Homo sapiens: one gene and its partners. The gene in region 2 interacts genetically with the main gene of each other region. Each region holds a gene or a part of one and is shown on either strand. Other genes may lie near its edges. The genes, in order: DAZAP1, EED, SLC39A3, PTEN, GEMIN5, VPS45 and SREBF2.

Region 1 (3,500 bases), on a different chromosome or scaffold from region 2:
CGGAGGACATAAAGGCCAATCCGCGCTGGTTTAAAGAGTCAGCTGAAAGCCAGAGCAGAACACTCCACAAGCCCGCTAAGTCCAAAGACACTGGGCTCTGCTGAGACACTTTCTCACTTTTCTAGAGAGACCCAAGGAGACAGGGATTGAGCATTTCTGCAGAGCTACATTTCAGCTAAACGGACCCACGACACAGTGCGTGCCTTGCCTCAGCTATTCCGAATTACAACCACTGCCACGTGGAAAAGTGCTCCAGTGTGAAGGCAGGGACTTTAGGACGGCAGGGGAAAGGCAGCAGCGACGACGAAATGAGCAGAGAGGAAGCTGGATTTCAGGCTGTACATCTCCAGCAGGTGACAATGATGGCTACGGAAACCTCCAGCAGCTCAAGAGCTGTGTGAAACACTGGCCCAAACCACACAGCCCCTTCTGCCGGCCTCCCACTGGCAAGGGCGCCTGCTCCTGGGCACCACTTCCCGGGGCCTCGGCGCTCACTGGGTGGCCAGAGCCAGGAGTCTCTGGTCCAGCTCCCGGGCTGCCCTTAGGGCTGGGGCTGCTCTCCTCCTGCCCCCACCCACCAACCATCCTTTTTTTTTTTTTTCCCTATCCAAGGCTATCACATTTTAAGTTGTTCCAACTGCTTTGAATAAAAGACTATAAACCTTTGAGGGTGAGTGCTCGCCGCCGTGACGGTCGGGATGGTTTCATGAGTGTGCGCGTGGGGTGAGTGCTCGCCGCCGTGACGTTCGGGGTGGTTTCATGAGTGTGCGCGTGGGGTGAGTGCTCGCCGCCGTGACGTTCGGGGTGGTTTCATGAGTGTGCGCGTGGGGTGAGTGCTCGCCGCCGTGACGTTCGGGGTGGTTTCATGAGTGTGCGCGTGGGGTGAGTGCTCGCCGCCGTGACGTTCGGGGTGGTTTCATGAGTGTGCGCGTGGGGTGAGTGCTCGCCGCCGTGACGTTCGGGATGGTTTCATGAGTGTGCGCGTGGGGTGAGTGCTCGCTGCCGTGACTGTAGGGATGGTTTCATGAGTGTGCGCGTGGGGTGAGTGCTCGCCGCCGTGACTGTAGGGATGGTTTCATGAGTGTGCGCGTGGGGTGAGTGCTCGCCGCCGTGACTGTAGGGATGGTTTCATGAGTGTGCGCGTGGGGTGAGTGCTCGCTGCCGTTGACGATCGGGATGGTTTCATGAGTGTGTGCGTGGGGTGAGTGCTCGCTGCCGTGACGGTCGGGATGGTTTCACGAGTGTGTGCGTGGGGTGAGTGCTCGCTGCCGTGACGGTTGGGATGGTTTCATGAGTGTGTGCGTGGGGTGAGTGCTCGCTGCCGTGACGGTCGGGATGGTTTCATGAGTGTTTGTATGGGTCAGAATCATCAAGTGGTGCAGTTTACTACGTGCCCATTATATCTTAAGAAAAGCTAGAGAGACATTAATAACCAGATGGAATATGAACCTTGGATTCCAGTCTGAAAAAAACCAGCTATGAGAGACACTTGTGAAACAATTCTGGAGCTGGGAACACGGCCTGGACACAGATGACACGGGATTCCCTGCAGCCGCTTTCCAGCGTGCTGACGGTGGGTGCATGCGAGGGGTGGCCGTCATTTTAGGAGACGCACCCTCCGGTCCTTAGGAATGGTGTATGTGGACAGAGATGGATGTAAATACATATAGACCCCACCCTGCTGCCCACACTGTGGAGAGGCTGGCACCCGGTGCCTCAGCAGGCCTCCAGGTCTGCACTGTCCAGCACGTTCTATGGGGCTAAGAGCTTTCCCATCTGCACCGCCCCACCAGGCTCCTGGTGCCGGTGTGAGAACTGCAGGGCTGGAGGAAGGTGAGGTGTGGGTGGTGGTGAGACCCAAATGCCAAGGAGACCCCATGCCAGGACAGTGCCCTGTCGGCCAGGCAAGCACCAGGGCGCAGGTCAGAGAACCCAAGTTGCCACGTCAGGGGATCTCAAGTGGAGCAGTAAAGTGGCCAGCACGAGCTGACACAGCCCGGCCCAGCCCCGGCAGTGGAAGGATGGCCCACCTCTGAGGAGGGCCAGGCAGTGGGAGGGGGCAGGCCCGGCACAGAGGGCACACAGGGCACAGAGGGAAGCTGACTGGCTCCTGATAATCAGTGGCATGAGCTGTCATTTTTTTTTTCCCTAAGATAGATTAGTAAGAATTTTCTTGGCTGTAAAACACTCACGGCACTGATAAATCTGGGTGATCCTCAGCTGCTCGAGTGCCAACCCAGAAGACCTGCGTCGCCCTCAATCTTAACGAGCGACAACAGCAGATTGAAGGCACGCATTTCCTTTCCACGTGGAGTGGAGAACACACAAGGAGGCCGCCCGGCCCAGCCCCTTACCCATCCTTCCTTCGGCCGTGTTCTCTCCGGCTGCATCCCCCGGGGTGTGCATGGCTTGGGGTCGATCTGCAGGAAATTTCAAATCAGCTGGTTGTGAATAAGAGGCTGTTTCTCTAGGAAAGAGGGTGTCAGCACAACAGCAGCCACGGCACAGCAGCCCGGCCCGCCCCGCCCCGCCGGCTCCATTCACCCTGTATCCTCCTGCAATATCCAGCCTCAGCACCAAGGCTTAATCCTTCCCAATCGACCCCACGTTCAAACATACTCTAACGCAAACATCGGTCAGAGTCCAGGAAAAAATGAAGCAGAGGAAGGACAGGGGAGACAGAGAGCGGGTGTGAGCTCCCGGAAGGGCACTTACGTTTCGGCCATCTAGCGTGTGCGGTCTGCTGGCCAGCACCGTCCCCACACAGTTTGGGTCTTTAAATTTGACAAACCCAAAGCCTCGAGACTGGTTGGTGGTTTTATCTTTCATGATAACACAATCTACGACTTCTCCATATTGGGAAAAGTAGCTGCGCAGAGTCTCTGCTCAGAAATCGGGAAGAAAACACAAACACACAGGGCCAGAGCATTAGGCACGTGCCTGGCAGTGCTGCCGGCACGCACACTCCTCCAGTCCACCAGCCACGCACCGAGCGATGCTGCACTGGGGGTGGGGGGTGTACGGGAAGCGCTGGGGAATTCTGCCCAACACACACTTGAGGTCCTCACGTAAATCAGGGGCTGCCAGTGAGCACAGCAGTGGCCAGCGGTTACAACCTGACTTTGTAGGCGTCCAGGAAGGCAACGTTTAAGGCAAGGCAAACAAGACAACTCTGAATGCTGGCAGTGGCCAAGGAGCGCCGACTTTGCTACACACTCTTTCCTCCTATTCTGAACTCAGTAACAGCCTGGCCAGCCCCCAGCCCTCTGCACTTCCAGACAACAGCTGTCTGCCTCCACAAGCCACCTCAGCCCGGAGCTAGGAACCTGCAGCCTGAGGTCTTCCCTGTAACTTGGGATGGAAATACCAAATTAACAGTCTCAGAGCAAATACACACTTACTCTGTCCCCTGCCCAGAAATCAGAACAACGTCAAAAGGACTTTAAAATATCCAAGACAGTAGCAAGAGGCGGGCAGACACAACTTGAAGGCCGAGGTCC
Region 2 (3,500 bases):
AATACTACATATGAAAATTCATATTGCTTTTTTATTTTTTAAAAAAGCTTTTGTTTTATAAAGGATTTCCTATAGAATTTCTTAAAAATGCTACGTTTTTCAGGATAAGTTATTTGAAATATTCCCATAAAGGGAAAGCATTGCATTTTGGAAATCACTACCTCTAGGAAGAGTTGATTACTTTTTCTTGTCTCTTGATAACACTAATTGGGGCTCAGATATTTCTGAACAACTGTATAGACCGTAATGCCTCACTTGTTCTAAATATTACAACTTTTTTTTTCTCTTTTCTTTGTTTTTTGGTTTTTTTTTTTTTTTTTGAGACAAAGTTTCGCTCTTGTTGCGGAGGCTGGAGCGCAATGGTGCAATCTCGGCTGACTGCAACCTCTGCCTCCCGGGTTTAAGAGATTCTCCTGCCTCAGCCTCTCGAGTAGCTGGGATTACAGGCATGTACCACCATGCCCGGCTAATTTTTGTATTTTTAGTAGAGATACGGTTTCTCCACATGGGTCAGGCTGGTCTTGAACTCCTGACCTCAGTTGATCCGCCTGTCTCAGCCTCCTAAAGTGCTGAGATTACAGGTGTGAGCCACTGCGTCCTGCCTCTATTTATTTATTTATTTATTTATTTTTGAGACAGAGTCTTGCTTTGGCGCCCAGGCTGGAGTGCAATGGCTCTATCTCGGCTCACTGCAACCTCTGCCTCCTGGGTTCAGGTGATTCTCCTGCCTGACCCTCCCGAGTAGCTGGGATTACAGGCGCCCTCCACCATGCCTGGCTAATTTTTTTTATTTTTAGTAGAGATGAGGTTTCTCCATGTTGGCCAGGCTGGTCTCAAACTCCTGACCTCAGGTGGTCCACCCGCATCGGCCTCCCAAAGTGCTGGGATTATAGGCGTGAGCCACTGCGCACAGCCCAACATCACAACTTTTAACCCTGGTCTTCCTCTATTGTGTCAGTAAGAGCATTTTTAAAAATCAGAAGTTTGAGCATGAATAAGAATTTTGCTCCAAGTGATACTATCAAGAAAGTAAAAAAGCCTACTCAAAAGGAGAAAAAATATTTATAAATCATTCTGATAAAGGACTTTGATTTTTATTTTTTGTTTTTGGAGACAGGGTCTTGCCCAGTCACCCAGGTTGAGTGCAGTGGTGTGATCATGGCTCACTGTAGCCTCAACCTACCAAGTAGTTAGGACTACAGGCACGTGCCGCCATACCTGGCTAATTTTGTAAAAAATGTTTTTGTAGAGATGAGGTCTCCCTGTGTTACCTAGACTGGTCCTCAAACTCCTGGCCTCAAGCAGTCCTCCTACCTTGGCCTCCTAAACTGCTGGGATTACAGGCATGAGCCATGATTCCCAGCTAATAAGGGACGTGTATCAAGAATTTTTATAGCTCAACAATAAAAAGACAGCCCAATTTAAAAATGGCCAAAAGTTCTGAATGACATTTCTTCACAGAGCATACACAGATGGCCACTGAGCACATGAAAAGATGTTTAACATATTAATCATTAAGGAAATACAAATCAAAACCATAATGAAATACCACTTCACACCTACTTAGGGTGGCTGTAATAAAAACGTTAGATACTAACAAGTATTGACTGGCACAAGAAGAAATCAGAGCCCTCTCAGACACTGCTGGTGGGAATGTAAAATGTAACTACTTTGAAAAACAATCTGGCAGTTCCTCAAAATGTTACAGAGTCACTAATCCTAGATGTTTACATATGTATGTATATCCTAGGGTTGTGTGGGTGGGGGTGTACATATGTATCCCCAACAGAAATAACATGTCCATACAAAAGCTTGTACAAAATTGAAATCAAGGAATCATTTTTACAGCACTGTTAATTTTCACATGTATTACTACCTCTGGGGTGTTTATGTGATGCATTTATATTCACAGACAGAATGAACATTGTTATATTTCAAGCTTACATGACGTGTCTTTGCTTTACATTCTTTCTTTTTTTTAAATACTGTTTTAGAGACAGGATCTCACTCTGTCAACCAGGCTATAGTAGAGTGATGTGATCACAGCTCACTGTAGCTTGAGCTCCTGGCCTCAAGCAATGTTCCCACCTCATCCTTCTGAGTAGCTGGGACTACATGTGCACACCACCATGCCTGGCTAATTTTTAAAAATTTTTTGTAGAGATACGGTTTCATTATGTTGTCCAACCTGGTCTCAAACTCCTGGCCTCAAAAGATCCTCACACCTTGGCCTCCCAAAGTGCTGGGATTACAGGTGTGAGCTACTGCTGTACATTCTTTATTAATGTTTAATATAACATTGCTCAAATTATAGCTGCATAATTTTTGAAGAGGGACTGTCATTCTATAAAATTGTGCATGATATATGTAGTTATGTTTTCAGCTTACTGTAAAAATCATAAATCTCAGTCCCCTTTCAATTTTTTAATGTGAGTATGGTGAAGGGAAAAGCTAGTATCTTGTTCTGTGGGATAAAATTGCTTATGTCAAATCTGTATTTTATTTCAAAAGTATATTTCCATCAAATTAGGTTATTTAAAGAAAGTTATTTGAGATAAATATGCTTAAAATATTTTTCAGACCACATGAATATTTCTGAACTTACTGTCTTAGTCCACTTTAACCTGGCATTAGAAAGTAAGAACAAGAAATTGAACTTGAAGCCTTTTTTTTTTTTAATATATAATTGGAATTAATTCATTCATAAGAGTGGTACTCTCATGACCTAACGCTTCTCATTAGGTCTCATCTCCCAACACTGCTGCATTGGGATTAAGTTTCCCAACCTGCTTTTTCGGGGGTTCATTTAAGCTGTAGCATTCTGCCTCTAGCCCCCAAAATTCAAATCCTCAATCAGATATGGGTGAGACTCAAGGCAGGATTCCTGCTGAGGTAAATTCTCCATCTGTGGGTCTGGGAAATCAGGCATCTTATCTATTTTCAAAATACAGTGGTAGGATAAGCATAGGATAGACAGTCCCTTCCAAAAAGGAGAGATAGGCAAGAATAAGGGTAACTGGTCCCAAGTAAATCCAAAACTCAACAGAACAAACAAGATTAAATCCAAGGCACCAGAATAATCTTCCTTGGCTCCATGTTTTGCCTTCTGGGCATGCTGGGTGTGGAGTTTGGGCCCCAGAGGCCTTGGGCAGCCCCATCTTTATGGGTTTGCCACGTGCAGCCCACATAGCATCTTATGAGTTGGAGTCGGGTGCCTGCAGCTCTTGCAGGCTGGTGGTGTGCCCTGGTAGCTCAGCAGTTCTGGGATTTGGGGGATGGCTTTTTCCCCATGGCTCCACCAGGTGTTGCTGTAGTAGGAACTGCTGTGTGGCTCTGCCCTTCTGAAAAGTTTCTGCCTGGAGCCCCAGGCTCTTTGTGATGTCTTTTGAAATCTAGAGAGGAAGCCGTGCCTCCACAGTTCCTGCATTCTCTGCATCTGCAGACTTAACACCACATGGACACTGCCAAGATTTGCTGCTTGTACCTTCAGAAGCTATGGC
Region 3 (4,288 bases), on a different chromosome or scaffold from region 2:
CCACCATGCACAGGATTTTGGCCACTAGCAATTTCACCATGGTGGCGGCTTGGGCTGCTCTGGTCACTGCAGGGCCAAACCATCTGTGGGCGCACACCCAAGTCCCACGATGTGCTACCGAGCCCAACCACACAGTTGGAGGCTCATGTCTCAGTCCAGCAACTGTGAACATCAGGGGCACTGCATTAGCTTTCTTTCTTTTTTCTTTTTTTTTTTTTAGACAGAGTCTCGCTCTGTTGCCAGGCTGGAGTGCAATGGTGCAATCTCCGCTCACTGCAACCTCCGCTTCCTGGATTCAAGCAATTCTCCTGCCTAGTAGCTGGGATTACAGACACGCGCCACCACTCCCAGCTAATTTTTTTTGTATTTGTAGTAGAGACGAGGTTTCATCATGTTGGCCAGGCTGGTCTCGAACTCCTGACCTCGTGATCCGCCTGCCTCGGCCTCCCAAAGTGCTAGGATTATAGGCGTGAGCCACTGCACCTGGCCAGTTCTTCAGTTTTGGAACTCGGACTGGCTCTCTTTGCTCCTCAATCTGCAGACAATGTATTGTGAGACCCTGTAATCGTGTGCAATTAATACTTAATAAACTTCCCTTTATATATATAACTATTCCATTAGTTCTGTCCCTCTAGAGAACCCTGACTAATACACTGTCTCAAAAAAAGAAAAAAGTTCATCAAAATTAAAAAAAATCCAGGCTGGGTGTAGTGGCTCACACCTGCAATCCCAGAACTTTGGGAGGCCGAGGTGGGTGGATCACCTGAGGTCAGGAATTCGAGACCAGCCTGGACAACATGGTGAAACGCCGTCTCTACCAAAAATACAAAAATTAGCCGGCCGTGGTGGCAGGCACCTGTAATCCCAGCTACTCTGGAGGCTGAGGCAAGAGAATCGCTTGAACCCAGGAGGCAGAGGTTGCAGTGAGCCAAGATGGCACCACCGCACTCCAGGCTGGGCAACAAGAGCAAAACTCCATCTCAAAAAAAAAAAAAAAAAAAAACTAAATAAAATACAAAATTCCGCTCCTCAGTCTCCCTGGCCATATTTCAAGCGCTCAGTAGTCACACAAGCCTACTTGACTTCTGTGGTTACCGTATTTGACAGCAAAGGGAACACTCTCATCACTGCAGAACATGCTATTGGATGGTGGTGGTCCATGGCTTCCCCATGCCCCGAAATAAAGTCTAAACTCTGTACCCTGAGGCTGAAGCTCTGCATGACAAGCTCCTGCCTCGCCTCGGCCCTCACTGGTCCTTTCTGTGCCAAGCTTGCTCGTGCCTCAGGACCTCTGCATGGGTTCTCCTCTCTCCACCTGGAACACTGCTCTCTTTCCCCTGACCTTCCAGCGAGGCCTCCTTCTTCTTTCTTGCTTCTCTGCATCCAGGACCCCTCAAAAGGGCCTCCCTCGGTTGGGAGTGGTGGCTCACACCTGTAATCTCAGCACTTTGGGAGGCTGAGGTGGGCAGATCACCTGAGGTCGAGAGTTCGAGACCAGCACCTGAGGTCGAGAGTTCAAGACCAGCCTGGCCAACACAGTGAAACACTGTCTCTACTAAAAATACAAAAATTAGCTGGGTGTGGTAGTGGGCACCTGTAATCCCAGCTACTTGGGAGGCTGAGGCAGGAGAATCACTTGAACCCAGGAGGTGGAGGTTGCAGTGAGCCAAGATCAAGCCATTGCACTCCAGCCTGGGTGACAGAGTAAGACTCTGTCTCAAAAAAAAAAAAAATTAGCTGGGCATGGTGGTACGTGCCTGTAATCCCAGTTACTCGGGAGGCTGAGGCAGGAGAATTGCTTCAACCCAGGAGGTGGAGCTTGCAGTGAGCCGAGATCGCGCCATTGTACTCCAGCCTGGGCTGCAGAGCAAGACTCCGTCTCAAAAAAAAAAAAAAAAAAAAAAAAAGGGCCTCCCTCTCTGCCCCTGGCTGACTCCTGCCCTAAACCATATCCCTGTACCCGCCGGAAGGCCTGCTGCAGAACAGATACTCAAAAACCGCTGGCTGAACACATGGACGAGGGGAAGCGTGTGGCCACTGATAAGGGCCGCATTTTACCTGATGCAATGGGCCAAAGTGAAGTCGGTTTCACCCTGGACCCCAAAATGTCACCGTTCTTAGGAGGAATCTCAGCTCCTCCCCTGTCCTTGAGTTTTCCCCAACTGGGTTTTCTCCCCCACCATCAGCCCCAAGCGCCTCATGGCCCCGCTACCTCACTGCATTCAGGTCTTCGGGTCACTGCTCAGATGTCTCCACTCAGAGCTCTCCCCGCCCCCTTCCCTGGTGTTATTTTCTTTTATTTTGTGCTACAGAGGGAGCTAGGAATTACATTATTTTAAGTCATTTAAAGTCGTCCCTCCCCCCCGGCGGTGAGCTGGGCGGGACCAGGCTGTCTGTCTTGCTCAGGGCCAGCTGCACCCAGCGCAGAGCCACCCAGGCACACAGTAGGCGCCCAATAAAGACCTGTCCGGCATCTGGATACCTCAGTCTGTACAGTGAAGGTGAGGGTGGCCTGCACGCTCTCAAACCGGAGGCTGCTCGGGCCGGGATGAGGAGGGCACGGGCTCATTCATTCAATCAGCACTTATTGAGCGCCTTCTGTGTGCCTCGCGCTACCGGGCACCGGAGACGGGCCTCGGCTAACGTGCGGGTAGAGTCCAACAGACCCCCGGCCGCTCAGCGCCGCCCCGCCCCGCCGCCCCAGGTCCTCTCTCTGCCCGCACCTACCTCCCGGGGGCCCCTCGTCCGCCGACTGGCGCCGCTGCACGCCCAACGGCCGCGCAGTCTCGACCCCACAGACGCGGCCCGGAGAGGCCCCGCTCGGCGCGGCTGGTCCACGCCCCGCCCACGCCCCTGCCCATTGGCCTCCCCGAGACCCGCTGGCAGAACTTTCCATACTATTGGCTGCGAAACCTGCCACTCATATGCGACTCCACCTCTCCTACCGGCACAGGAAAGGGGTTTCCTCCCGCTGAGCGGCGGGCGCAGCCACCAAGCGGCCCCGGCGGGAAACCCGGATTGGCGAGGAACGGTTCCGGCAGGGTTGGGTTTCCAGAGCTGTCCAGGGGCGCCTGGTGCTGAATCCCGCTTGGAAAGAGGCTTGGAGGTGGATGGGAAGGGATTTCCAACGGAGGCGGCTCCTCTCTCAGCGTCCTCGCTGCTGATCCCCTTACCGACGGCTGAAGAAGCAGATTCATCCCTTCAACAAATCTCTGTTGATAGGCAGGAGGAGTAAGTCCAAGAGATCGACTGTACATCATGGTGGCTACAGCTCGTAACAATGCATTGCATACTGCAAAATTGCTAAGAAAGTAGATGTTACATGTTCAAACCATGAAAAAATAAGTATAGGAGGTAACGCGTAAGTTAAAAACCAAATCTTGGCAGGGCGCAGTGGCTCACACTTGTAATCTCAGCACTTTAAGAGACCGAGGCGGGAGGATCGCTTGAGTCCAGGAGTTCAAGGCCAGCCTGGGCAGCATAGTGAGACCCCATCTCTAAAAAAAAAAAAAAGGTTTTTTTTGAGACAGAGTCTCGCTCTTGTCACTCAGGCTGGAGTGCAATGGCGCGATCTTGGCTCACTGCAACTTCCGACTCCCGTGTTCAAGCGATTCTCCTGCCTCAGCCTCCCGAGTAGCTGGGATTATAGGCGTGTGCCACTATGCCGGCTAATTTTTGTGTTTTTAGTAGAGACGGGGTTTCACCATGTTGGCCAGGCTGGTCTTGAACTCCTGACCTCAGGTGATCCTCTTACCTTGGCCTCCCAAAGTGCTGGGATTACAGGCATGAGCCACTGCGCTTGGCCTGATGACTTGATTCTAACAAATAGAAAATGGCAAATGAATGGGATGTCATTCTGCGATTAGGCTATGAGAGATTGTGACTTCTGTTTTGCCAGCAGAGCCTGTCTCTCGCCTTCTCAGCCTACGTGTCTTGACAAAGCAAGCTAAGATGCTGGAGAGATCCAGAGGGAAAGGAACTGAGGGTGTCCTCCAGCCAACAGTCAGCAAGGCAATGAGACCCTCAGCACAAGCGTCCATAAGGAACCAAATGCTACCAACAGCCATGAACGTGATCATGGAAGAGGGTCCTGCCCCAGTTGAGCCTTTGGATGACTGCTTCACTTCAATTGCAGCCTTTGAAACACCCTAAAACAGGGCTGCATGTGGTAGCTCATGCCTATAATCCCAGCACTTTGGAAGGCCGAGGTAGGCAGGTCACTTAAAGTCAGGAGTTTGAGACTAGCCTGGCCAACACGGCAAAACCCCATCTCTACTAAAAATACCAA
Region 4 (3,500 bases), on a different chromosome or scaffold from region 2:
AGTACCTGCCACATTGTAAATACTTAAATGGTAGCTACTGCTCTGAAAAACTGTAATTTCAGGTTATGTATGTAGGGAAATTATTTGTATTTTCATTTATGGTGTATGATTGTAACTGAATTTCCTCAGTTTGGGCCATGTTAGGATTTTGTTTCAAGTTATAAGTGTTTTTAAAAATAAGGGTATTCCTTTAGGAAGTCTGGGTATGACATGTCTGTGATTTTGCTGGTTCATCACAAATGGGAAATAAATCTCTGCTAACTCAAACTGTTGACCAAAGTAAAATTAATTATGCCAATCAAAAACTATTTGCTTTAAAATATAAAAGGCAAAAACTTCCTATTAGCATAATGAAGTAGAATTTTTAAACTTTGTTATAATCTTAAATTTTCTTTAGTGTTGAAGATAGGTCAACTTAACTATCATACATTTTTATTCACATAAAGTAAACTCTGCCTCAAATGTAATAAACTTAATATGAGTTATGTAAACTTTGGTCAATAGAGGTATATTTTTTAGCATTTCCTTTTGAAAATTTCAGCCTTTTGAGGGAGTCTTGCAACTGAATGTCAAGTTACATTTATTACAATAAAATGGACACTTAATATAATCTGTAATGCATTAACATAATATGGGAACTTTTAAAGTATTCAGTCTCTGTATTATTGAGTCCTATTTCCACATTTGGCCAGGATTCTCAATATGATTTAGGCCCAAGACGTGGGAAGAAAGAAGTAAAGAACTAAAGGATTTTTTTCTTCATTTTTTTAATTGAATATGGGGAAAGATGGAATAAGCTTATCTGTCCAGTAAAGGCCATTATGTGTACATAGGGATTATTATTTTTCCCCCCCTTGGGCTGTACTGATTTCCCAGATGTACCACAGCACTCTTAGTAGTGAAGCACTTGACTTCTAGTGAGTGGATTTTTTGTGTGTGTGTTTTATATTGCAGAGTGAATACACTCTGTCTGATACTATGTGACTTTCTGATTATGTGATTTTTATGCATTTTATGTGTTTTGTAAACTAGCTGTATTTTTGGTCCATGTCTAGGTTGTAGAATTGAATTGTGCATTTTGGCATCTGAGCACAGCTGAGTTTTCTAAATCAATCTCTCTCCTTGCACCTAGTTTTTGCTTTAGATCACTACCTAAGACTTACTGTTGATTTAATATTAGAGCACTTAAGCATAGCTTTGACTTTTATTTCCTTTGATTTTTGTAGATTTTCAGGCTGAAGTACAATAAGGTTCTCTGTTCTTTACTAGTAATTGCAAAGATTGTATTCTGTGAATTTTATTTGTTTAATACTTTTGATCTTTTGAAGAGGATGTAATTATTTAAGGTATTATGAAATGCATTGTGATTTGAATTAGATACTCTTTGGAGATGGAGTTTTGCTGTTGTTGCCCAGGCTGGAGTGCAATGGTGTGATCTCGGCTCACCACAGCCTCCGCCTCCTGGGTTCAAGCAATTCTCTTGCCGCAGCCTCCCAAGTAGCTGGAATTACAGGCATGCGCCACCACGCCCGGCTAATTTTATATTTTTTTTTTCAGTAGAGATGGGGGGTTTCTCCATGTTGGTCAGGCTGGCCTCGAACTCTTGACCTCAGGTAATCTGCCTGTCTCAGCCTGCTAAAGTGCTGAGATTACAGGCATGAGCCACTGCGCCCGGCCTCAGATACTCTTTTAATTAGATGCGTTTAAAAATTTAACCCACCATTGCTGGCATGAATAGATGTATTTTTAGAGTGATTCATAAATATCGTATACATGTTTAAAGTTACAAACTTTTTGCTTATTTCAAAATGCAGGATTCTTTTCCATTTAAAATTCCCTCTCTTTGTGAGACTTCTTTTTGAGTATTCTGGTTACTCTAAACTGATTGGAGATGAAATTAGATAGAATTGAAAACTGTACTTTTAAAATGAAATTTTGGGGATGTCATTAAGCTTGATTTTTTAGGTTTTTTTTTTAGTGTGTATTATAAATTATTTTACACTGATTGTCAGCGATAAAATGGAATGCCTGGGATTTTTTAAAATTTATTTTATTCATTTTTATAAGGTAAAAACAGTGTTTTGCTAGGCTTAATTTGACCATGTTGTAAAATTTATTGTATACCTTGAAAGAATCATTTATGAAAGATACTGAATTAGCTAATATATACTCTGTCTTATGTAGTTTTTGATTAACAATACACTTTTTAAATCATTAGCTCATTTGATTTTGCAAAGAAGAACAGGTAACCTAAGAGGCAGACAGAACAGGCATTACTTTTATTTTTCTTTCTTTTTTATTTTATTTATTTATTTATTTATTTATTTTTTGCAGCTTAGGAATTGTAGCTCCAGTGGAATCAGTATCTTGTTAATGGCTAGTGAAAGACTGAGTCTGAAGAAGGATGCAGGACTTTTTTGGCACTTGGTGCAGTATTTTTCCCATTATGTTACATGAGTGGTTCTTAAACTTCAGTGTGTTAGAACAACCTGAAGGGCTTATTAAGCTATGGATTGCTTACTCCACCCTCAGAGTTTCTGATTCAGTAGGTCTGGATTGGGACCTGAGAATTTTTATTTCTTAGAAGTTTTCAAGTGATGCTGATGCTGGTGCTCTGGGGATCACACTTTGAGGACCACCAATGAACATTATCTCCCACCAAGCAAACCCTTAACATGTTATACTCCTTTAGGTTATTAGAATTTATACATGCATTATTTCATTTGACCTGTAAACTCTAAGTAACTTTGCATGGAAAATGTTATCCTGATTTTATAGACGAGATAGTGAGTTTAGAAAGGCAGTATGGTGGAATGGAGCATAGATTTGGAGTTGGCTAGACCTAAAGTCCAGATTAAATCTCTGCTCAAGGCTGGGCGTGGTGGCTCATGCCTGTAATCCCAGTGCTTTGGGAGGCCAGCGTTGGCAGATTGCTTGAGTCTGGAAGTTCGAGACCAGTCTGGGCAACATAGGCAGACCCTGTCTCTACAAAAAAAAATACAAAAATTAGTCGGGTGTTATAGTGCGCATTGGTAGTCCCAGCTACTGAGGAGGCTGAGGTGGGATCACCTGAGACTGGGACTTTGAGGCTGCATTGAGCTGTGATTGGGACACTGTACTCCTGCCTGGGTGACAGAGTGAGACCCTCTCTCAAAAATAAATAAATAAATACATCCCCGCTCAGCCACTTATCAGTTACGTAGATACACTGCCTAACCTTAGTGAACCCTGTTTCGACAACTCCAAAATGGGAGTAAAAATCCTAAACTTGTACAGTGGTTTTTTAGTTTTGTTAAAAGTACAGGTGAGGTTTTTTTCAGAGTATTGGTTGCCATCTGAGAGTGATCCCCTTTCACCTCCTCTAGGACTTTTAGCATTTTCTGGAGACATTTTGGTGGTCACAGCTGGGGTGGTAGAGTGTGCTATTGGCTAGGGGCTTGAAGCCAGTGATGCTGCTTAACATCCTATATGGCACAAGACCCCTCCCCATCAACAAAGAA
Region 5 (3,500 bases), on a different chromosome or scaffold from region 2:
GTGACTACCCTTGTTAGGGTAGTGGGAGACAGTAACCGGGAGGGAGGATGGTCCTCCATTCCTGGGGAGGAGAAACAGAGGACTGGGAGGAAGATTTACTTTGAAAAAAAAATTAAAAAAAAATTTTTTTTTTTAAATAGAGAGAGGGTCTCACTATGTTGCCCAGGCTGGCCTTAAAGTGAGCTCAAGTGATCCTTCTGCTTCAGCCCCTTAAGCATCAATTTTATTTATTATGTGCATCCCTTTTCCACATGTAAACTTCAAATTTAAAAAATAAAGTTATTAAAATATCAAAATAGTGGACATTAAATGAAGACTTTGAAAAACAAAAATAAAACAACCCTTCAAAACAAAACTTACAAAGCAAAAGCTTCCATCAAATTTTTTTCTAAAAAAATGCCATATTATGAGCATATTTCCAATAAGAAAAAAAGATTTTTTTCTCCATAGGATACTGTTCAATGGGGAAAAGAGTTGAAGGAGTTTATTCATGCTGAGATACTTAGGCCAACATACCAATTCTGGCACACAGATGGCTGGGAGGAATTAGATTTAGAATAAAAGCAGAGCGCTACATTTCAAAGCCATGGCAGTGCTGACGGTGGGTCACAATGGGGAGTTTGGCAGCAAGGTGTAGGGGTATAGGGATGTGGAGGGAAGGGAGAGCTGGAGAACATAAAAATACAGAAAACAATTTAGACATTTCTTTGGGCATTCATTTAATAAATAAGTAAACATCCCTTATATACCAGTCCCGGAAGACTATGGATGGGCCAAGGAAGTACATTTTTGTACCTCTGGAGTGCTTTGCAGTTGCTAGTACCAAACAGTCCTGATGAAGCTCCTCTTTGGATCTGTGGTCCAGGCTTGTACTCAGGGGAAGCAAGGAACGAGCTTTTCTCTTCTTGATTAAGGTTTCTGAAATTTAATAAAGTACATACTATCTGAAGGAGAACTGATCAGAAACATAAAACGGAATGCCTATTGTGTGAATGTAACCTACTGGCAGGACGACACCACAGGCAGAGAAAGCTCCTCCTCCTAATAAAGAGGCTTTCAAAATAAATTTGCTGGGGGCATTGTTCACAATACACACAAAAACGCTCTTGCTAACATTTATGATGTAGTGTCAACAACTGCAAAACATTTCATCAAGTGCTAAAAAAAATTCAAAAGCATGACCCAAAATGGAAGTGGAAGTCTGGGCACAATGGCTCACGCCTGTAATCCCAGCACTTTGGGAGGCTGAGGCGGGCGGATCACTGGAGGCCAGCAGTTCGAGACCAGCCTGGCCAACATGGTGAATCCCCGTCTCTACTAAAAATAACAAAAGTTAGCTGGGCATGGTGGCGGGCGCCTGTAATCCCAGCTACTCGGGAGGCTGAGGCAGGAGGATCGCTTGAGCCCGGGAAGTGGAGTTTGTAGTGAGCCAAGAGTGTGCCACTGCACTCCAGCCTGGGTGACTGGAGTGAAAATCTGTCTCAAAACAAACAAAAAACAAACAAAAAACCCATAATCAGAAAACCTACAAATATTTTGAACCTATAAAAACAAACAAGAAACCACACTGTTTTTTGACAGTTGCGTGTAATATATGTAATATTTTAGGCTGCTTTAACAAAATACTGTATTTTAATTACTAGATACCAACCTGGCTTCTCTTTTGGTGGCTCCTTTTTCAGTAAAATGACTTTGTTATTAATGGTGACTTTTGACTTTTCAAAGCCTGAGGAAACTGGAGTGCAGATAACTGGTTCTCTAGAAACTACATCATGGGGGAAAAAGGAAAAAAAAAGTTAAGGATAACAATAATACAGAATTTCAGTTCTTTGTAAAAATTAAGAGCCATTCCAAGCTTAGCAATATAATCAATTCATCTATTACCAAAACTTTTGAGATAAAATGCACTGGAAAAGAAGTAGGAGTAGTTTCCCCTTTCCCACCTCCCAAACTAGCTGTTTTCAGGAATCTGTAAGTCTATTACTTTGGTTTTTTTTTTTTTTTTGAGACGAAGTCTCACTCTGTCGCCCAGGCTGGAAATTCAGTGGCGCAATCTTGGCTTACTGCAACCTCTGCCTCCTAGGTCCAAGCAATTCTCCTGCCTGAGCCTCGCCAGTAGCTGGCACAAGCCACCATGCCTGGCTAATTTTTGTATTTTTAGTAGAGACAGGGTTTCGCCATGTTGGCCAGGGTGATCTCAAACTCCTGACCTCAGGTGATCCACCTGCCTCAGCCTCCCAAACTGCTGGGATTACAGGCGTGAGCCACCGCTCCTGGCTTACTTTTTTTTTTTTCTTTTGGTTAGAGATAAGATATAACTGTTGCCCAGGCTGGAGTGCAGTGGGTGCAATCACAGTCACTGAGGCCTTAACCTCCTGGGCTCAGGTGATCCTCCCCTCCTCAGCCTCCCAGAGTGGCTAGGACTATAGGCACAAGCCATTATCTTGGTAATTTTTATATTTTTTGCAAAGATGGGGGTTCCCTATGTTGCTTAGGCTAGTCTCAAGCTCCTGGGTTGAAGCAAGTCTCTTTCCTTGGCCTCCCATAGTGCTGGGATTACAGGCATGAACCACCATGCCCGCCTTACTTTGAACTTTGACTAAGGAAAAAGCTTCCAGCCCTCCACAACTTTATACCATAAGCCAAGGAGTTCCTATACTTTGCTCAGGTGACAAAGCACTTTTTACATTTCTAGGTCATAAAGTACTAATTGCATATTTAATTACACTAACAGGAGTAACTTTAATAATAGAGAATACTAGGTGTATGCAATATGGTGTCACAATCCTGAGCACAGGAACTTTTTAAAAACAACTTGTTGATCCATGTTTTGTATAGCCATTTTGTGAAAGAAAGACTTTTTAAAAAAAAGAAAAATAAAGAGATGGGGGGTCTTGCTGTGTTGCCCAGGCTGGCCTCAAGCGGTTCTCCTGCCTCAGCCTCCTGAGGATCTGGGACTAGAGGTATGTGTCTCTGTACCCGACTAGAAAAGCATTCTGATGAGCCAAAATAATAAATCCATTAGGCTTTTTGCTCTTTATTTACCCCAACTATGTGTCTAACAGCTATCCCTTGGGATGGAGAGCATCAGGAATGCCTTGTATCCTATATTCTAGCCATTTCAATACTGTCACATCAATGGATTCTGTTTTAGAATTAAGTATGAGTTACTGCTTCTACTTACACTGTTTGCTATTTAATCGTTTATTTTACCAGGGACCAGATATTTATCACTTGGTCTGACAAACCATTCTCAACAGGTCCCGAGTAAATGTACAAAATAAAAAGAGTGCTAAAATTTTTACCTAACAGTTTTTTTGTTAGTGATAGAACACTGTTTTGTGAGACATCTGAGAGCCATCACTACAGCTTAACTCACTAGAAAAACCTAATAACCATTCACACATTTTTTTTCTGTGAGAAGACAGAAAGCCGCGTACAAACTCCACGTAAGGGGGTGAGAGCTTGCAAGTTCCCACAGTGGTGGTAGCTTCTAGGTC
Region 6 (3,500 bases), on a different chromosome or scaffold from region 2:
TTTGTGGATATAGCTATACTGCCAAACAGCTTAAACACTAATTTAACAGCTAAGGGCTAAAAAAATTTCCACCAGTGTTCTGGTTTTGCAAAGTTGTGTTCTTGCCACATTTCCTTTGATATTTTCTATTATTATAGCAACAATAAAACCTAGAATTTCTATTATGATGAGACAAATAATAATAAATACCACTATAATCAAGGACTCTTTTCAATATGATAATACAGGGCCAAGAAAGTGGCTAGAGCTGATAGTGTGGCCAAGTGAATACAGAGCCAGAATGTTTTAAAGGGTTGTTTATGAACTTCAAAAATCTAAATTTTGTATAGCATCAATTAAGTTTATTCTCTGGTTTAAATTTTCCAACTATAAATATTGGCATATCAACTAGAAGAGATGCCTATAGAATTTACCAAACATCTATTGAACACCTATTATTTGTAAATCACTGTGTTAAACATTGTGAAAACCCCAAAGATTAACAAAACATAATACTTACTTCAAGATTACAATACCTAATACAATAACTAATAGGAAGGATAGATATGTAACTAACTACTGTCTCAATATCCAGAGGTAACGACTATTAACAACTTCTTGATTATTCTTTCAGAAATAATTACTGTAGGCAGGGCATGGTGGCTCATGCCAGTAATCCAAGCACTTTGGGAGGCTGAGGCAGGCAGATTGCTTGAGCTCAGGAGTTTGAGACAAGCCTAGGCAACATAGCAAAACCTTGTCTCTATAAAAATGCAAAAATTAGCTAGGTACTGTGGCATGTGCCTGTAGCCCCAGCTACTTAGGAGAATGAGGTGGGATGGCTTAAGCCCAAAAGGTGGAGGCTGCAGTGAGCTGAAATCACGCCACCACTCTCCAGTCTGGGCTACAGAGCCAGACCCTGTCTCAAAAAAACAAACAAACAAACAAAAAGAGTTACTGTATTTATACATATATGTGCTTGTGAAAATATATTATATATATAATATACATACATATGTATAGTCAAGCACATATTTATATACATGTACACTTTTTTTGTTTTGTTTTGTTTTGTTTTGAGACGGAGCCTTGCTCTATCACCCAGGCTGGTGTGTAATGGCATAATCTCGGCTCACTGCAACCTCCACCTCCCTGGTTCAAGCGATTCTCCTGACTCAGCCTCCTGAGTAGCTGGGACTACAGGTGCATGCCACCACGCCTGGCTAATTTTTGCATTTTTAGTAGAGACAGGGTTTCACCATGTTGGCCAGGCTGGTCTCAAACTCCTGACCTCAAAGAATCTGCCCGCTCGGCCTCCCAAAGTGCTGGGATTATAGGCATAAACCACTGCACCCAGGATTATACAGTTTTTTTACCTGAAAGAAATGTTATGGCTGGGCACAGTGGCTCATGCCTGCAATCCCAGCACTTTGGGAGGCCGAGGCGGGCGGATCACGAGGTGAGGCGGGCGGATCACGAGGTCAGGAGTTCGAGACCAGCCTGACCAACATGGTGAGACCCCATCTCTACTAAAAATACAAAAATTAGCCAGGCATGGTGGCATGCACCTGTAATCCCAGCTACTCAGGAGGCTGAGGCAGGAGAATCTTGAACCCAGGAGGCGGGGATTGCAGTGAGCCGAGATGGCACCACTGCACTCCAGCCTGGGTGACAGAGCAAGACTCTGTCTCAAAAAAAAAAAAAAAGAAAGAAATGTTACAACATCCTGCTTTTCTATCTAATATATCTTAAAAAGCTTTGCATATCACCCGTGAGGAGTTATGTCATTTAAAAAAAAAAGAATACGTAATATTGTACTGTAGTTTAGGTAACCAGCCCTCTATTAATAGATATTTAGCTTGTTCCTAGTTTTTTTGCTATTACTTCAGTGAACATCCTGGCTTAAGTATCTTTGTGTACTTGCACAGGAATATCTATACAGTAAGCTTTTAGAAGTAGAATTGGTAAATAAGAGTATTTTCAAGTCCTTTGCAGTATTCCTTCTGTTAGGCATGGCCAGGAGGTGGTATAGGTATGTTCTGTGACACCCACTGTAGTTTTGTAACCATTTCTTTGCCTTCTTCCTTCAAAATTTCCACTATCTTAGAAGCTCATAATGTAGCTGCACCGTTTTCTCCTGACCTCCTTTCCTGGTCACTTTTATTCCATGAAGACTTTAGCTCTGGCTTATTTGTCCTCCTTTTTCTCCTTCTCTTTTCAAGATTGTCAGTGACTTTAACATCACTGTGGATTACTCATCTAACATCCTGGTCTCCTTACCAATCCTGATCTTTTCTTTTACCCACTACAACCACCCACATCCATGCTTACAATCTAAACTTCTTCGTTACAAGTATCTGAACCCCCTATGAAATCTTGAATTCAAAATATCTTTATCCAATAACTACCTCTCAACTTCCAATTTACCTGTACTAATACTCTTCTGTAATAATTCTTTGGCCTCATCAAATCTCCAATTCATTCACCAATACCTTTGTCATGATCCAATACACTCTCCTCTTGTTTCCATTTCCCCAACTAGTTGCCTTTTCCATGTTTAATCTGGAGCAGTTCAACATTTCCAGAGGTTTTAATATTACTAATGTTTTTGTCAACTCTCAATATGTGACATTTCTACTTGTTATCTAATAGACATCTCCAACTGAACAACAAAACTCTGTTTCTCCTCAAAGCCTGAGAGTTATTCTTGACTTCTCTCTTACCCTTGTTCCATAAATCTGTGCCATTAAATATGACTATTGATTCTGGCTTCTCTCTCAGCCTCCTACCCAAACCACTTCCATTTCTCACCTGGACTACTGCATTCATCTCCTCAGTAGTCTCTCTGCTTCTATTTTTGCCTTCAATAATCCATTCTTACCACAAATATCTTTTAAAACACAATTAAGTTCATGTTACTCATATGCTTAACTCTTCAATGGCTTCCTATGACATTAAAAAAAAATCTCTTTACTAGGGTCTTCGAGAACCGATGTGATCCAACCCTACCTATCTTTCAACCTCTTATTTCCTCCTTATTCACTATGCTCCAGCCAAGCAGGGCTCCCTTCTGTTCCATTAACTTGCCAAATTCTCTCTTTCTTCAAGACCTTTGCTCTGGTGTTTCCCTCTGCTTTGGATGCTTTCTCTCCTAATCATAGTGTGATTGCTTTTTTTTTTTTGAGATGGGGTCTCACTCTGTTGCCCAGGCTCGAGTGCAACGGTGCAAATTTCAGCTCACTGCAACCTCCGCCTCCCAGGTTCAAGCGATTCTTCTACCTCAGCCTCCTGAGTAGCTGGGATTACAGGCGCCTGCTACCCACGCCAGGCTAATTTTTGTAGTTTTAGTAGAGACAGGGTTTTGCCATGTTGGCCAGCCTGGTTCAAACTACTGACCTCAGGTGATCCTCCCGCTTTGGCCGCCCAAAGTGTTGGGATTACAGGCGTGAGCCACCGTGTCTGGTCTGGTTCTTTCTTATGACTCAAAGCTCATCTTAAATATCACCTCTCAGAGAGGTTCT
Region 7 (3,500 bases), on a different chromosome or scaffold from region 2:
CTGACTTCAGGTGATCCACCTGCCTTGGCCTCCCAAAGTGCTGGGATTACAAGCATAAGCCACCACCCCTGGCCTATTTACATTTAATTATGATTTATTTTTCCTATCCTTCTGCAAGCATATATATATATATATATATATATATATATATATATATACACACACACACACACACACACAAAATATCAAAATATATATATATATGTATATATATATATATTTTTTTTTTTTTTTGAGACTGAGTCTCGCTCTGTTGCCCAGGCTGGAGTGCAGTGGCACGATCTCTGCTCACTGCAAGCTCTGCCTCCCGGGTTCACTCCATTCTCCTGACTCAGCCTCCCGAGTAGCTTGGACTACAGGCGCCCACCACCACGCCCAGCTAATTTTTTGTATTTTTAGTAGAGACGGGGTTTCACCGTGTTAGCCAGGATGGTCTCGATCTCCTGACCTTGTGATCCGCACGCCTTGGCCTCCCAAAGTGCTGGGATTATAGGCGTGAGTCACCGCGCCCGGCCCAAAAAATCTTTGTGTTTTTTTGTTTGTTTGTTTTGTGTTCAGAGAAGGGATCTGGCTAGGTGCCCTGGCTCATGCCTGTAGTCCCAGCACTTTGGGAGGCCAAACCGAGAGGTTGCTTTTCAGGAGTTTGAGACCAGCCTGGGCAACATGGTGAAATCTCGTCTCTACAGAAAATACAAAAATTAGCCGGGCATGGTTGGCGCACACCTGTGGTCCCAGCTACTCAGGAGGCTGATGTGGAAGGATCGCTTGAGCCTGGGAGGTGGAGGCTGCAGTGAGCTGAAATTGCAACACTGCACTCCAACCTGGGTGACAGAGCAATACCCTATCTCAAAAAAAAGAGAGACAGAGTCTCGCTGTGTTGCCCAGGCTGTTCTCAAACTCCTGACCTCAAGTGACCCTCCCACCTTGGCCTCACAATGCACTGGGATTACAGGCATGAGCCACCACAACCGGTCTCAGCAGCTTTCTGTTTGTCAGATATACAAATATACCCCAGGCTCCAGGCCCCCACATCCCCCAAAAAACACACACACACACACACACACAGCATCAGAGACCTGAGAAGGACATCTTGGTGGAGGTTTGGGGGAATGGAGATGGTTCCTTTTATTTTTTTATAGTGGTGGTGTGGTGGTTTTTGTTGTTTTGGTGTCTAAATCAGAGCATCACATGGCCTTGAAGGTTTGGAAAGGAGGGGCCATAGTTCAAGAACAAGCAGTAGCTTCTTGGGAACGTATTGGAGAGAGAAAAGAGAAAAGAATATGGACAATGTAGAGAATTGTAGGTCTGAAACTATCTGGGACAAAGCTGAGGCTCCTGACTTCTATAGGGACCAGTCATATGAAAAAGAAGGGAGTCGTGAGAGATGATGGGGTAGTTGTGGGTTAAGTTGGGTTTTGGAAAGCCTTTGGGAAGATTGACCAGGGAAGAGGCCCTGGAAGTAGGCTTGAGACCCTTTGGGCTGGGAATTTAAGGGTCCCAGCTACTTGGAACATGATCTAGAAAGGGAAGCGAGGTCTCCAGGTGGACAAATCCCTTTGGACCCAAGACTCCTTGCCCAGAGAAAAGGGGCACAACCAGACAAGGGCTAGCATGGGCCCTGGGAAGCACGGAGTTCAGGGTGGGGCAGGCTTGCTGTGTCCTGGCCTGGCAACATACCTGCACTGTGTTGTGGTAGAAGAACACAAAGCTGGGAGGCAGAGAACTGGTTCTAATCCTAGCTGTACCCTGACAAGCTGTGTGACCTTGGCCAAGTTACTTTCCTCTCCTGGACTTCATATATGGTTTTTCCATTCTTTGCATCCCTGAAGCTCCATGACTTAGGGGCCATCAACTTGGTTGTCCCTGAGTGTTTCCAAGAATACCAACAGTGCCCAGGGTTTTACTCAGCTTGGAGAGGAGGCCTAGAGCCTCCCTGTGGTGAGGAGGAAAGAGGTTAGAGCAAGTTTGGGTCTGCAGTGCTAGGATTAGAGGTGGCCTCACAAGCCAAAACCGCTATACTCACAGCCTTAGGACAGTGACTCCCTACTCGCTGCCTCAGTGTTTCCAGCTGTAAAAAAGGACCCTTGGTACCTTCGACAGAACAGCACCCATCTAGTACAAAGGTAGTTCCTTTTATGATCAAAACAATCAGGAAAAAGAGAGAGGCTGGGTGCGGTGGCTCACACCTGTAATCCCAGCACTTTGGGAGGCTGAGGTGGGTGGATCACCTAAGGTCAGGAGTTCGAGACCCACCTATCAATATGGTGAAACCCTGTCTCTACTAAAATTACAAAAATTAGCCGGGCATGGTGCCGTGCACCTATAGTCCCAGCTACTCAGGAGGCTGAGGCGGGAGAATCGCTTGAACCCAGGAGGCAGAGGTTGAAGTAAGACAAGTTCGCGCCACTGCACTCCATCCAGCGTGGGCGATAGAGGAAGACTCCGTCTCAAAAAGAAAAAAGAAAGAAAATGAGAGAAAGGGCCTGGAGGTGAGTGTGAGGAGGGAAAAGAACATCAAACAGATAAAGTCCTGTCCTGTTGTCCTGGGACCTTGGGCAGCCATCTTGGCCCAGATGATCCCCACAAGAAAGAGGTAAGGGTTTCCTGACCCATTTCTGCCATGGTCTTAGGAAAGTCATTGAGTTTTCATGCCTTAGTTTCTTAAGCAAGTTTGAAAGTTCACTTTTTGGATAGCAATAAAATTACTCCTTTTCTTTTGTTCACAGAGATGCTGCAATTTGTCAGTAATCAAGTGGGAGAGTTCCCTGACTTGTTTTCAGAACAGCTGTGTAGCTCCTTTCCTGGCAGTGGTGGTAGTGGTAGCAGCAGCGGCAGCAGTGGCAGCAGCAGCAGCAGCAGCAATGGCAGGGGCAGCAGCAGCGGAGCTGTGGACCCTTCAGTGCAACGGTCATTCACCCAGGTCACATTACCTTCCTTCTCTCCCTCGGCGGCCTCCCCACAGGCTCCAACTCTGCAAGTCAAGGTTTCTCCCACCTCAGTTCCCACCACACCCAGGGCAACTCCTATTCTTCAGCCCCGCCCCCAGCCCCAGCCTCAACCTCAAACTCAGCTGCAACAACAGACGGTAATGATCACGCCAACATTCAGCACCACTCCGCAGACGAGGATCATCCAGCAGCCTTTGATATACCAGAATGCAGCTACTAGCTTTCAAGGTGATTCAGAAGTTAGAATGGTAGTGGTTGGTTGGTTCCAATGTTTATGTGCCAGTTTGCAGACACTGTAAATATTTCTGTCGTCTTCAGGAATGGCAGGTATATCAATATGGTCCTGTCTGAATGAGGTTCTGGTAACTGGCAATAAGAACTGGTACAGGAGCATGTCACATTCTGCAGCTTCAAATACCTTAATATCTATTGCGCCTAATTCAAAAATACTTGGTTAAAAAATCCAGCAAGCGGCCGGGCGCGGTGGCTCACGCCTGTAATCCCAGCACTTTGGGAGGCCAAGGCGGGCGGATCACGAGGTCAGGAGATTGA

What was found.
Region 1: changes in EED (region 2) and DAZAP1 together harm fitness less than expected from each alone (positive genetic interaction), as found in Homo sapiens cells (one large-scale study listed by BioGRID).
Region 3: changes in EED (region 2) and SLC39A3 together harm fitness less than expected from each alone (positive genetic interaction), as found in Homo sapiens cells (one large-scale study listed by BioGRID).
Region 4: changes in EED (region 2) and PTEN together harm fitness more than expected from each alone (negative genetic interaction), as found in Homo sapiens cells (one large-scale study listed by BioGRID).
Region 5: changes in EED (region 2) and GEMIN5 together harm fitness less than expected from each alone (positive genetic interaction), as found in Homo sapiens cells (one large-scale study listed by BioGRID).
Region 6: changes in EED (region 2) and VPS45 together harm fitness less than expected from each alone (positive genetic interaction), as found in Homo sapiens cells (one large-scale study listed by BioGRID).
Region 7: changes in EED (region 2) and SREBF2 together harm fitness less than expected from each alone (positive genetic interaction), as found in Homo sapiens cells (one large-scale study listed by BioGRID).

What each region holds. Positions count from the first base shown.
Region 1 is NC_000019.10:1,417,586-1,421,085, reverse strand, and holds part of DAZAP1 (DAZ-associated protein 1), read right to left. Parts: intron 2,883-3,500; coding exon 2,716-2,882; intron 2,421-2,715; coding exon 2,355-2,420; intron 1-2,354. UniProt on the Homo sapiens protein: RNA-binding protein, which may be required during spermatogenesis.
Region 2 is NC_000011.10:86,258,253-86,261,752, forward strand, and holds part of EED (polycomb protein EED), read left to right. Parts: intron 1-3,500. UniProt on the Homo sapiens protein: Polycomb group (PcG) protein. Component of the PRC2/EED-EZH2 complex, which methylates 'Lys-9' and 'Lys-27' of histone H3, leading to transcriptional repression of the affected target gene.
Region 3 is NC_000019.10:2,737,218-2,741,505, forward strand, and holds the start of SLC39A3 (zinc transporter ZIP3), read right to left. Parts: upstream 2,801-4,288; 5' UTR 2,728-2,800; intron 163-2,727; 5' UTR 41-162; coding exon 1-40. UniProt on the Homo sapiens protein: Transporter for the divalent cation Zn(2+). Mediates the influx of Zn(2+) into cells from extracellular space. Controls Zn(2+) accumulation into dentate gyrus granule cells in the hippocampus.
Region 4 is NC_000010.11:87,870,125-87,873,624, forward strand, and holds part of PTEN (phosphatidylinositol 3,4,5-trisphosphate 3-phosphatase and dual-specificity protein phosphatase PTEN), read left to right. Parts: intron 1-3,500. UniProt on the Homo sapiens protein: Dual-specificity protein phosphatase, dephosphorylating tyrosine-, serine- and threonine-phosphorylated proteins.
Region 5 is NC_000005.10:154,903,712-154,907,211, forward strand, and holds part of GEMIN5 (gem-associated protein 5), read right to left. Parts: intron 1,766-3,500; coding exon 1,652-1,765; intron 919-1,651; coding exon 796-918; intron 1-795. UniProt on the Homo sapiens protein: The SMN complex catalyzes the assembly of small nuclear ribonucleoproteins (snRNPs), the building blocks of the spliceosome, and thereby plays an important role in the splicing of cellular pre-mRNAs.
Region 6 is NC_000001.11:150,095,276-150,098,775, reverse strand, and holds part of VPS45 (vacuolar protein sorting-associated protein 45), read right to left. Parts: intron 1-3,500. UniProt on the Homo sapiens protein: May play a role in vesicle-mediated protein trafficking from the Golgi stack through the trans-Golgi network.
Region 7 is NC_000022.11:41,864,105-41,867,604, forward strand, and holds part of SREBF2 (sterol regulatory element-binding protein 2), read left to right. Parts: intron 1-2,726; coding exon 2,727-3,176; intron 3,177-3,500.